Homo sapiens: one gene and its partners. The protein of the gene in region 2 purifies or fractionates together with the protein of the main gene of each other region. This does not show direct contact. Each region holds a gene or a part of one and is shown on either strand. Other genes may lie near its edges.

The links.
Region 1: the proteins of MICALL1 (region 2) and ZBTB21 purify together in Homo sapiens (affinity purification with mass spectrometry, with the first as the bait; one large-scale study listed by BioGRID). This does not show direct contact.
Region 3: the proteins of MICALL1 (region 2) and RAB15 purify together in Homo sapiens (affinity purification with mass spectrometry; one large-scale study listed by BioGRID and IntAct). This does not show direct contact.

What each region holds. Positions count from the first base shown.
Region 1 is NC_000021.9:42,000,289-42,003,938, forward strand, and holds part of ZBTB21 (zinc finger and BTB domain-containing protein 21), read right to left. Parts: intron 2,674-3,650; 5' UTR 2,609-2,673; exon of another isoform or gene 2,062-2,608; intron 1-2,061. UniProt on the Homo sapiens protein: Acts as a transcription repressor.
Region 2 is NC_000022.11:37,912,707-37,916,356, reverse strand, and holds part of MICALL1 (MICAL-like protein 1), read right to left. Parts: intron 1-3,650. UniProt on the Homo sapiens protein: Lipid-binding protein with higher affinity for phosphatidic acid, a lipid enriched in recycling endosome membranes. On endosome membranes, acts as a downstream effector of Rab proteins recruiting cytosolic proteins to regulate membrane tubulation.
Region 3 is NC_000014.9:64,948,298-64,951,947, forward strand, and holds part of RAB15 (ras-related protein Rab-15), read right to left. Parts: intron 3,367-3,650; coding exon 3,306-3,366; intron 2,855-3,305; coding exon 2,777-2,854; coding exon of another isoform or gene 2,646-2,776; intron 2,118-2,645; coding exon 2,028-2,117; intron 437-2,027; coding exon 371-436; intron 216-370; coding exon 57-215; 3' UTR 1-56. UniProt on the Homo sapiens protein: The small GTPases Rab are key regulators of intracellular membrane trafficking, from the formation of transport vesicles to their fusion with membranes.

The DNA of each region.
Region 1 (3,650 bases), on a different chromosome or scaffold from region 2:
TTTATGAGCCTCCATCTCCGCCTTACTGTCCCTACTTCCTTTCTTGTGCTTCCTGGGATCAGTTCCCAAATAAACGTCTACCTCTGAATCCTTGTCTTGGGGTCTACTTTTGGGGGAATCCAAACTAAGACACAAACAGAACTCGAAGCACAGGTAACGGCTAACCACTTCACACTAAAACCTCCCTTCCAAGGGCTTGTCCTGGCCCTTTAGTGTGAAGACTAAACCAAGGGGAGTTTTCTACATCCCTGGACCTGAAGCAAATGGTATTCCACAGACCGTATGCATCCCGTTGCCAAAAAAGCAACATTTGTGTCCCTTTTGTTTAGAAAGGTTTCCTTCTTTATGCATTATTCAAAGTATCATGATCCCTATTTCTGCTCTAAGTCACTGCTTCAAATTTCTTGGATCACAGACCTCTATCTTCTTTGGATGAAAACATCTATGGACTAGGGGACAATAATAAAGTCATTCAAAGTTAAGTTGTAAGAGAAATACTCACTGTCCCTGAAAATTATTGGGGATTTAAAACTTAACTTTCCTATAACCTCCATTTAGAGCCATCACACCTGCCTGAAAAGTGCCTCAAGATGTCCAAATTCCTGATACACAAGTGCAGAATAACTTTATAGAGTATTTATTTTCCATTCCATTCAGTAGAACAGTAACTAGGTACTTAATAACAGCTAAAATTTGGGTGTTTATTCTGTCACATACACAAAAATAAAGAAGTTATTTTTATGTATTAACTCAATATTTACATCAACCATAGGAGGTAGGTACTATTATTATCCCCATTTTACAGATGAGAAAACTGAGGCACAGACGGTCAAGTAACATGCTCAACGTCATAGAGATAAGTAGCAGAGCAGGATTCACATCAGCTGGCTTGGATCCAGAGGCTAAGCTCTTAACCCCTACACGACACTGCCTCTAGTTTCCTCTTCCAATTCTCGTATCATCTTCTGAACTAGACAGTGTCATCAATCCTTTTTACAAACAAATGAGAAAACTGAGGCATTGAGAGGTCAAGTCATTTGCCTAAGGTCACCCAGACAATTATAGACTTATGGCTAGCATCTGTCTAGTGTGTGCTAGAACCCTTCTAGACATGGAAGATATCAATTTAACAAGTATGGCCCTGCCTCATGGAGCTTAAGGTCTTGTGCAGGAAGAGAACAGGTCAATTCATCAGCCTAGTCCAGTATGCTGAGCAGCAGACAGGATGTTTGCAGAGGTAGAGACGCAGTATAGATGACAGGCATCAGAGCCAGGTGAGATGGAGGCCAGGAAGGGCGTTCTACGAAGAAAGTTTTATAGGGAATGCTGGGAAGAGATAGGAAGGATGAAGGACATTTCGAGGGACGAGTATTTATTTTCCATTCCTTTCAGTAGAACAGTAACTAGGTACTCAATAACAGCTATAATTTGGGTGCTTATTCTGCCACACACACAAAAGAAAACACTTTTAATGTATTAACTCAATATTGACATCAACCCTAGGAGTTAGGTACTATTATTATCTCCATTCTACAGATGAGAAAACCGAGGCACAGAGGGTTAAGTAACATGCTCAATGTCAGACAGATAATAAGTAGCAGGGCAAGATTCACATCAGCTGGCTGGGCTGCAGTACATGCAACACTACAGAGACAAGACAGAGCAGGAGGAATCCAAGGGAACCACAGGTGGCTTTGCCTGGTGAAAGGTAAAGGTACACATAGGGGAGGAAATGCCCATGAGGCTGGAGGAAGATGGAGGCATGAGCGCCCTGGGGGCTAAAATATGTCATCTGAGGATCTTGCACAGGAAAGCAACATTGTCCATTCTCCCCAGTACCCCAGGATCTAGAGACTCTAGATGTCTAGATAGGAGACAGGGGTAGCTAGGAGATGCAGATCCCTCACCTTCACATTAAGGCCCTTGTTTTTTTTACATTTTAATTCAATTATTAAGTTTTGAAAACAATGTACCCTTTCCTAGTCTGGCTGCAGACAGACAATTAACATATTGAATTTTTGTGTTTTAATGACAGTCAGTATATTTGAGTTTAACAATTACCTAAAAATATAAAATGCTCCATCCATCAAGAATGTAAGTAAAAAGGGGGAAAATCACAACTGCTGACGATCACGAGATAATCCAGCAAGACTGTTTGTGGCTGGTGGCTGTGTACACCGAATCCTCAAAAACTTTTGATTTCTCTGCTCTTCTGCTGTCAGATAAGGCGAGCTTTGTTGCCGGGTGTACTTTCTCCTCAGTGTATTTTTCAGATCTAGACCGATAAGTTTGCTGGCACATCACTCCAAATTTCCATGCAGGTTTTCATTATGAGTAATCAGGGCCTCCGACTTACAGAAGCAGTGCATCTTACACATAAACACGCACTGCTGCCACCACCGTCTACGCCCCTCCTTTCCACGGCTCATCTCCACCTGACTCATCACGGCAGAACTTCTGCCACTTCAGTCATGGTGGAAAAACCTTGGAGCTCTTAAAAGACCAGTGGGTGAAATTTGGAGAAAAGGTCTATTTACGAGCAACAGAAAAAACTAAGAGGAAAACCCCCCAGGAAAACCAGTTTCTAAAATAGGGCCGGCTTGCTTACCACTTTGATCCTCGCACACAAATAGCTTCCCAAAGCCTTCCTGGATTGTTTCTACTTCATGTCTTCTGAAATTTCAAAATGAGAGAATCTTTATGGTTAACAATTCACAGAAGACCTTACAGTTCCATGGAAAAGCCTTTCGAATCAGTCTATTTGTCTCAAATCCTGGCTCCGCCACCTATTAGGCATGGAACCTTCTAAAGATGACTCAACCTTTCTGACTAGTTTCCTTACCTGTTAAACATGGCTAACACTACCCACCACATAGGATTTTTATGAAGGACAGAAGAGGCAACATGTTTGAAAGCCCCAGTACGTTCAGCACTTCCCATGTGGCACATGCACATCTTCCTTCCTTCTCCACTTCCCCTCACAGATGCTTGCGTGGGCCTGCTACCCACCACACATCACAAGAGGTGCTGGTGATGGGGAGATGAGTAACTGGCCTGCTTCTTGTTCTCCTGTAGCTCACATTTCCATGTTAGGACAGACAATAATTAACAAAGGATGTGAAGAATGCTACGGGAATACTGATTCCAGGAAGCAATTAATTTGGCCAGGGTGTAGGAGGGTGGAAGAGTGAATAGTGGGAACTATTCACTATTAACTATGAGTGAATAGTCCTAAGGAAGGCTTGGGACTCATCACTCCTTTGACAATTATAATACAAGCTGAATATCTCTAGTCCAAAAACCCAAAACTACTTTCTGAGCAACGACATGATGCACAAAGGAAAGGCTCATTAGAGCATTTTGGACTTTTGGATTAGGGACGCTGAACCACTGGGTATAATGAGAATATTTCAAAATCCCAAACAATCTGAAATCTGAAACACTTCTGGTCCCAAGCATTTCAGATAAGGGATAGTCAACCTCTAATACTAAAGGTTCCATTCTTTACATTTCTACTATAGACGCTTTTCAGAAATGCTCATCTGGCCTTGCTGGGGCTTAAAACCTTCCAAGGGCTTGCCCTGGCCTCAACTTCCAATTCCCTGGAATGGCTACAAAACCCTTCAGAACTGGATTCCAGAAGATTATTT
Region 2 (3,650 bases):
TTTTCTTTTTTATTACAAAAGGCAGATTTATTAGAGAAGGTATGAAAATACATTGCGAGGCTGAAAATACAGGCAGCATAACAAAGGACTGTCTGCCACAAACTGTACCTTTATCAATGAGAATCCCTGCAGGGCGAGGGAGTGCCCATGCCCACACTCAGCACGGTAAGCTGTGCCCACCAGGGCTGCCCCTGCCCACCAGGCTGCCCAGAGAGGGCCAACGAATGAGCTGCGTACCACCAACAGCTGCCCACACCCCACCCACCCCGCAGAGTCCCAGAGATGAGCTCAGTAGAGAGAGATTCAGGTTTGGCCACAAGGAAGGCCGCAGGCTAAGGCTGAATTGCGATTCTAAGGAATCCAGCTAAACGCTAATCAGTGAAATAAGAAGTAGTAAGAATACTAATCTTGGCTGGGCGCAGTGGCTCACACCTGTAATCCCAGCACTTTGGGAGGCCAAGGTGGGTGGATCACTTGAGGTCAGAAATCCCAGACCAGACCGGCCATCATAGTGAAACCCTATCTCTACTAAAAATACAAAAATTAAGCCAGGCGTGGTGGTGCGCACCTGTAATCCCAGCTACTTGGGAGACTGAGGCATGAGAATCGCTTGAACATGGGAGGCAGAGGCTGCAGTCTGCCAAGGTTGTGCCACTGAGCTCCAGCCTGGATGACACAGCGAGACTCTGTCTCAAAAAAAAAAAAAAAAAAGAATACTAATCTAAATAGGTGCCAAACACTGGTTTATACATTTCCTCATTTACTCCTCAAGTCAACCCTGTGAGATGGGTGTTATTCCTATCCTCACTGCAAAAGGGAAACTGAGGCAGAGTGGTTAAATAACTGACCCATGGTCACCCAAAGAGGAAATGGCAGAGTGAAAATTTTGAGTCCATGCTCTTAACCCCAACCTTAGACTGCCTCTCACCAGAGCCTCTGGGGTCTGGAAATACTTTCATTTTGTTTTCTATTAAAATATACATAATGTTATTTGTTCAATTATTTTAATCCCTAGTGTTACATCAGGGGGAAGGGGTATAAGACATTATTTTAATTTTTCTGCTTTTGCCATGTTCTAAATTTTCTTGTTTATTTTTTCTGTTTAGGGATGGGGTCTCGCTCTGTTGCCCAGGCTGCAGTGCACTGGCGTGATCATAGCTCACCGCAGCCTCAAACTCCTGGCCTCAAGCAAACCTCCCATCTCAACCTCCCATGTAGCTAGGACTACAGGTGTGCCACCACTATGCCTGGTTAATTTTTTTATTTTTATTTTGGTAGAGACAGGTTCTTGCTATGTTGCCCAGTCTGGTCTCAACAGCAATCCACCTGCCTCGGCCTCCCAAAGTGCTGGGATTACAGGCATGAGCCACTTCACCCGGCTATTTTTTCTTTTTTTCCTAAAGTTATTTATTTATGGCTGGGCATAGTGGCTCATGCCTGTAATCCCAGCACTTTGGGAGGCCGAGAAGGGTAGATCCCTTGAGCTTAGGAGTTCAAGACCAACCTGGGTAACATGGTGATACTCCACCTCTACAAAAAATATAAAAGTTAGCTGGGTGTGGTTGCATGCACCAGTAGTCCCAGCTTCTCAGTAGGCTGAGATAGGAGGATCACCGCAGCCCAGGAAGGTTGAGGACGCATTGAGCTGTGATCATGCCACTGCACTCCAGCCTAGGCAACACAACAGAGTAAAACCCTGTCTCAAAAAAAATACACATATATGTGCGTGTGTGTGTGTGTGCGCGCACGCATATATACACATAATATATGTACATATATATGTATATGCATGTATATATATACATATATATATATAATGAAAGAAAAGATGGCTGGGTGCAGTGGCTCATGCCTGTAATCCCAGCACTTTGGGAGGCTGAGGTGGGTGGATCACCTGAGGTCAGGAATTCGAGACCAGCCTGGCCAACATGGTGAAACCCCGTCTCTACTAAAACTACAAAAATTAGCCGGGTGTGGTGGCGGGTGCCTGTAATCCCAGCTACTTGGGAGGCTAAAACAGGAGAATCGCTTGAACCCGGGAGGTAGAGGTTGCAGTGAGCTGAGACCGCGCCATTGCACTCCAGCCTGGGCAAGAAGAGTGAAACTCCATTTCAAAAAAAAAAAAGAAAGAAAAGAAAAGAAACCTCTGACTTCATAAAACACTTTAAAGAGTTGGGCCAGGGCCGGGCGCAGTGGCTCATGCCTGTAATCCTACCACTTTGGGAGGCCGAGGCAGGTGGATCGCCTGAGGTCAGGAGTTTGAGACCAGCCTGGCCAAAGTGGCGAAACCCCATCTCTACTAAAAATACAAAAATTAGCCGGACATGTTGGTGCATGCCTGTAATCCCAGCTACTCAGGAGGCTGAAGCAGGAGAATCACTTGAACCCCGAGGGCAGAGGTTGCAGTAAGCCGAGATCGCGCCATCGCACTCCAGCCTAGGCAACAAGAGCAAAACTCTGTATCAAAAAAAAAAAAAAAAGAGTTGGGCCAGAACTGTCTAGACCGACAGCAGAGGCAGGAGGGAGGGGCTGAAATGGGCTCTACTCAGACCCAGGGACAGCAGGAATCCAGCGTTGGATTCAGGACACCTGGATTCTCAACCCAGCTGTTCAGTTTGTCTGCTGTGTGATCTTGAGCTCCTTGCTTCCCCTCTCTAGGCCTATCTCATCTCTGCAGAAGGGGAGGCCCAGCTACCTGCAAGGGAGGTCCTTGCATGGGAATGCCCAGTGACCTCACTCAGAACCGAGTCACTTTGTAGCCCCTGCAACTCTGGTTCCCCAGTTCCCCAGCCTCTCAGCTCTCAGTCACTTCTGTGGAAGACAGCACAGCAGCCTCACCAGACAGAGCCACTTCCCTGCTGGAGGAAAAACCCAAGGAAGTGTCTGCAAACAGGAAGTGAGGGTGGGTGCCGGGGAGGTGGACTCCATGCAGCGGATGAACGCAACCTGCTGTGTCTCCTCTGATATGATTGTGTTCATTTTCTGGTGGGTGTGTTTGGTGTCTATCTCCCCCACGGGACTTCAGCAGTGATTACATTCACAGCTGCATCCCCAGAGCCCAGCACAGGCTCTTTTACTCAAGATATATGTCAGGCCGGGCACCAGTGGCTCACGTCTGTAGTCCCAGCACTTTTGGAGGCTGAGGCGGGCAGATCACCTGAGGTCAGGAGTTCAAGACCAGCCTGGCCAACATGGTGAAACCTCATCTCTACTAAAAATACCAAAAATTAGCCAGGTGTAGTGGTGGGTGCCTGTAATCCCAGCTACTCAGGAGGCTGAGACAGGAGAATTGCTTAAACTCAGGAAGCGGAGGTTGCAGTGAGACAAGATCGTGCCATTGCACTCTAGCCTGTGCAACAAGAGTGAAACTCCGTCTCAAAAAAAAAAAAAAAGTGGGACTGGGCACAGTGGCTCACGCCTGTAATCCCAGCACTTGGGGAGGCCAAGGCGGGCAGATCACGAGGTCAAGAGTTTGAGACCAGCCTGGCCAACATAGTGAAACCCTGTCTCTACTAAAGACACAAAAAATTAGCCGGGCGTGGTGCCGGGTGCCTGTAATCCCAGCTACTTGGGAGTCTGAGGCAGGAGGTTAAACCCAGGAGGCGGAGGTTGCAGTGAGCCGAGATCGTGCCATCGCAATCCAGCCTGGG
Region 3 (3,650 bases), on a different chromosome or scaffold from region 2:
TGCCCACGGGCCTCCTGAGGGAAGAGGGGTGTCGTGTGGGGTGCCCCACACAGGACTCAGCACCAGCAGGTTTTCGAAGAGTTCGCTGGGCCCTCGGGTTTGCCCTCCTCCTCCTCCAGCTCTGCCAGTGCCAACTCATTGCTGGCACGCATCCGGAGGCCTTCCAGCTCCTTCCTATGGGCCTGCAGCACCAGCTCTGTCAGACGCGTGAATGACTGGAAACCAAAGGGCACAGGTTAGTCCAGTGTCTCCTCCTCTCCCCTGGCAACCCTGCAGCGGCCTGAGGGATAAGGTCCATCTTATGGCTCCTCCTCCCACCTCTGCTGGACTCAGCCCGAGAGAGCGGGCGCCTGGTCACCAGGGCTCTCACCTCTTTAATGTTGAGGTTGGTGCAGGCACTTGTTTCATAGAAGTCCATGCCATACTCCTTCGCCAGCTGCAAGAGAAGGACATTTCTGAAAGAGAGTCAGTAAGGCAGGGGAGGGGCCCATACAACCAGGCACAGGCTTCTGCCACTGCACTCACAACCATGCTGTGTTGTGACGATTTCTCAGAGTAGATAATTTCTCAGATGGGACTGGGAGCTCCAAGAGAGGGTAGCAGAGAATGGGGGAAGATCCTCCACAAATATGCCTCTCCATTCTTCCAGCTGCCACCCCACGCCTCCCAACACACAATCATATATCAGGAGATAAAGACACCATCCATTGTGGCAGTATGGCATCCTCGTAAAAAACATGGGCTCTGGAGTCCCACAGTCCCAGACCTGAATAGCAGCACTGCCACTGATGGCTAGCTGTGTGACCTTGGACAAGTTGTACATTCTCTGTAAGCCCCAGCTTTATCTTCTGTTAAAGGAGACTGAGTGTGTCTCCCATCCATGGTTGTGGGATGATTCAGTGGGGTCGTGCACTTAAAAGCGCTTGCCTTAGCACAGTGCCACACATAGAGTGCTCAATAAATACTATCCTAGTAGGCTTTGCCTCTACTTTCAAATTGGTCAATGACCATGTCTTATATTTTATACCAAACAATCAATTTCATTTTAAGTACTAATGGAACGCTATTGACTGAAAAGGGAGAGGAAAACTCTTGAGGTCCACGGACTGAGTGGATAACTTATCTCAGAAATACCAATCTTGGCTGGGCACAGTGGCTCACGCCTGTAATCCCAGCACTTTGGGAGACTGAGGCAGGTGGATCACCTGAGGTTAGGAGTTCGAGACCGGCCTGGCCAATATGGCAAAACCCCATCTCTACTAAAAATACAAAAAAATTAGCCAGGCGTGGTGGCATGCACCTGTAATCTCAGCTACTTGGGAGGCTGAGGCAGAAGAATTGCTTGAACTCAGGAGGCAGAGGTTGCAGTGAGCCGAGATGGCGCCACTGCACTCTAGCCTGGGTGACAGAGCGAGACTCCATCTCAAAAAAAAAAAAAAAAAGAAAGAAAGAAAAAAAAAATAACCAATATTTCTTTCTGCTCTCTGGGAGGATGGTCTCCCTGCATGCTTGGACATTCCCTCAGCGTCATCCTCCTACCCTTTCTGCCCCCATGGCTTCTCCAGCTGTGGCTCTTTGTCTCCTCATTTGCCTCCCTGGCTCTTTCCTGGGTAAGAAGGACAGGAGTGGGGGAGTGTTGGGTGGGATGGGAGATCATTTCTCGACCGTAACATGGCAGCTAGGCCTGGATGCTGTCAGAGAAGAGGTTGACAACTTGAAGTCCTTCATTACTAACACGGGGATGATCTCTTAAGCAGAGGGCAATCCTGCATTTGGGGACCTGGACTTGGGAGAGTTGCTGCCTATGACGTCTTTGTTTCTGGATGGACCCCGAATCTCTGGGCTTCTGTCCTGAAACCCAGACAACAAGCCTTCCGAGGATGGCCACTCCCCCAGGGCCTTGGGGTGCTGGGGACGTGTGGGAGGACCTGCCACTGGGGAACACACCCCTAGGTCCCCACGCTCAGGACTGGCCCTGGAGGCCCAGCAGAGGACCTGGGGTGGACTTGCCTTTTCCCTCCACTTACCTGCTGCCCTTGCTCTCTTCCCACCTGCCGTTTCTGCTCCTCATCAGCCTTATTCCCAATAAGGATCTTCTGGACGCCTTCTGGTGCGTACTAGGGACAAAGGATGGGCAGAACAGCCAGTGAGTGCTGCCTGCCCCCCCAATTTTCCCTACAGAGTCTGCACTGCCTCCAGCCCACCACCAATTCCAGAGCCCTAGGGACAGGGTGGGCCGACTGGATGCAGGTGCCAGGCTCCCCCAAGTGCCATGGCTGACCTCAAGGGTATCACGGGGAGAGCTTAGGGTAGAAGACACTCTGGCTAAGACTGGTGCTTCCTTGGGTTAGACCACTGGTATCAGAGCTGGAAAGGACATTGGATGTAAGTCCAGCCCTCATTCTACAGGAACTGGGGACCCAGAGGATTCAAATGGCTTCCCAAGGCTCCACAGCTATTGTGCAGAGCCAGGACTAGATCCCAATCTTGCAACTCCACCTGGTCCCAAGATTTCAGGAAAGAAGCTGCTCACAGGGAAGACTTGGAACTAATTCATTTCCGGGAAAGACACAGCCGTGGAGGCCTGGCAGGGTATAGAGAGTGAGGGCATGGCAGCTTCGGTTTCTTCCCCATGTCTTACTCACCCAGAGGTCTTCATCCAGGGCTGTGGAAGGCAAAGCTTCCTGGAAGCATTTGCCTTCCCATCTGGCCCTCGCCTTGCCTTCCCCGGTGAGGCACCCTCTCCACACCCCGGCAGTGAGGTGGCATCTCCTACCTCATCCACGTCACTGACCCACTTCATGATGTGCTGGTAAGAGCGCTCGCTGCTAATGTCATAGACCAAAAATATCCCCTGAGAGAGAGAGAAATAGAGAGATGTGATATGCACAGAGAGAGTGCAGTCATGGGGCCAGAAGGGGCCGTGGAAACTTAAAGGTTGGGTCCCACTCTCCCATTCTCCCTGCTCAGCATCCAGAAATATCTCTTCTCTCAGACCCCACCACTGCCGCCTCCCAGGCCCATCACAGAACTCTCTACAGCAGGAAGACACCACATGCTTTGACCTGGATCTTTGACCCAGGATGGAGGGTGGAAGTCAGGGGTGAGGGCAGGGGCCTGCCTGCAGTGAGTGGGCCATGAACAATGGACGGACAAATGATCAGTGAACAGCTGAAAGACGCCCTGCGCTCCTCCAAGCAGGCGAACTGTATTTAGGGGATCCGTGGCACAGACATCTCAAATACCCAGAGCTGGGAGTGTGGGTGGCAGCTTCCCACTTTGAAACCCCCAATGTGGTGGCTTACCTGGGCCCGCCGATAGTACTGCTTTGTGATGGTCTGGTATCTCTCCTGCCCTGCAGTGTCCCTGCAGGAGAAAGCCAGTCCCTCAGAGGAGCAGGGACCATGGGAACAGACGGGGAGGGGAAGAGCAGAGCTGTCCCCTTGTAGGAAAAACTGGGGAGCTAAAGGGTGAAAAACCAGGGATGCTTGGATCCCCACAGGGATCTGCAGTCAGAGGCCTGGTCATCTGTGCTGGTGCTGACCAGGCCTGCAGGGCCTTGGCCCCTCCTGCCAACTGCCCTCCTGGCAGAAACCAGAAGCCACAGCCAGAACAGGCCTTGGACAGCTCTCTGGAATCTGGCCACTGTG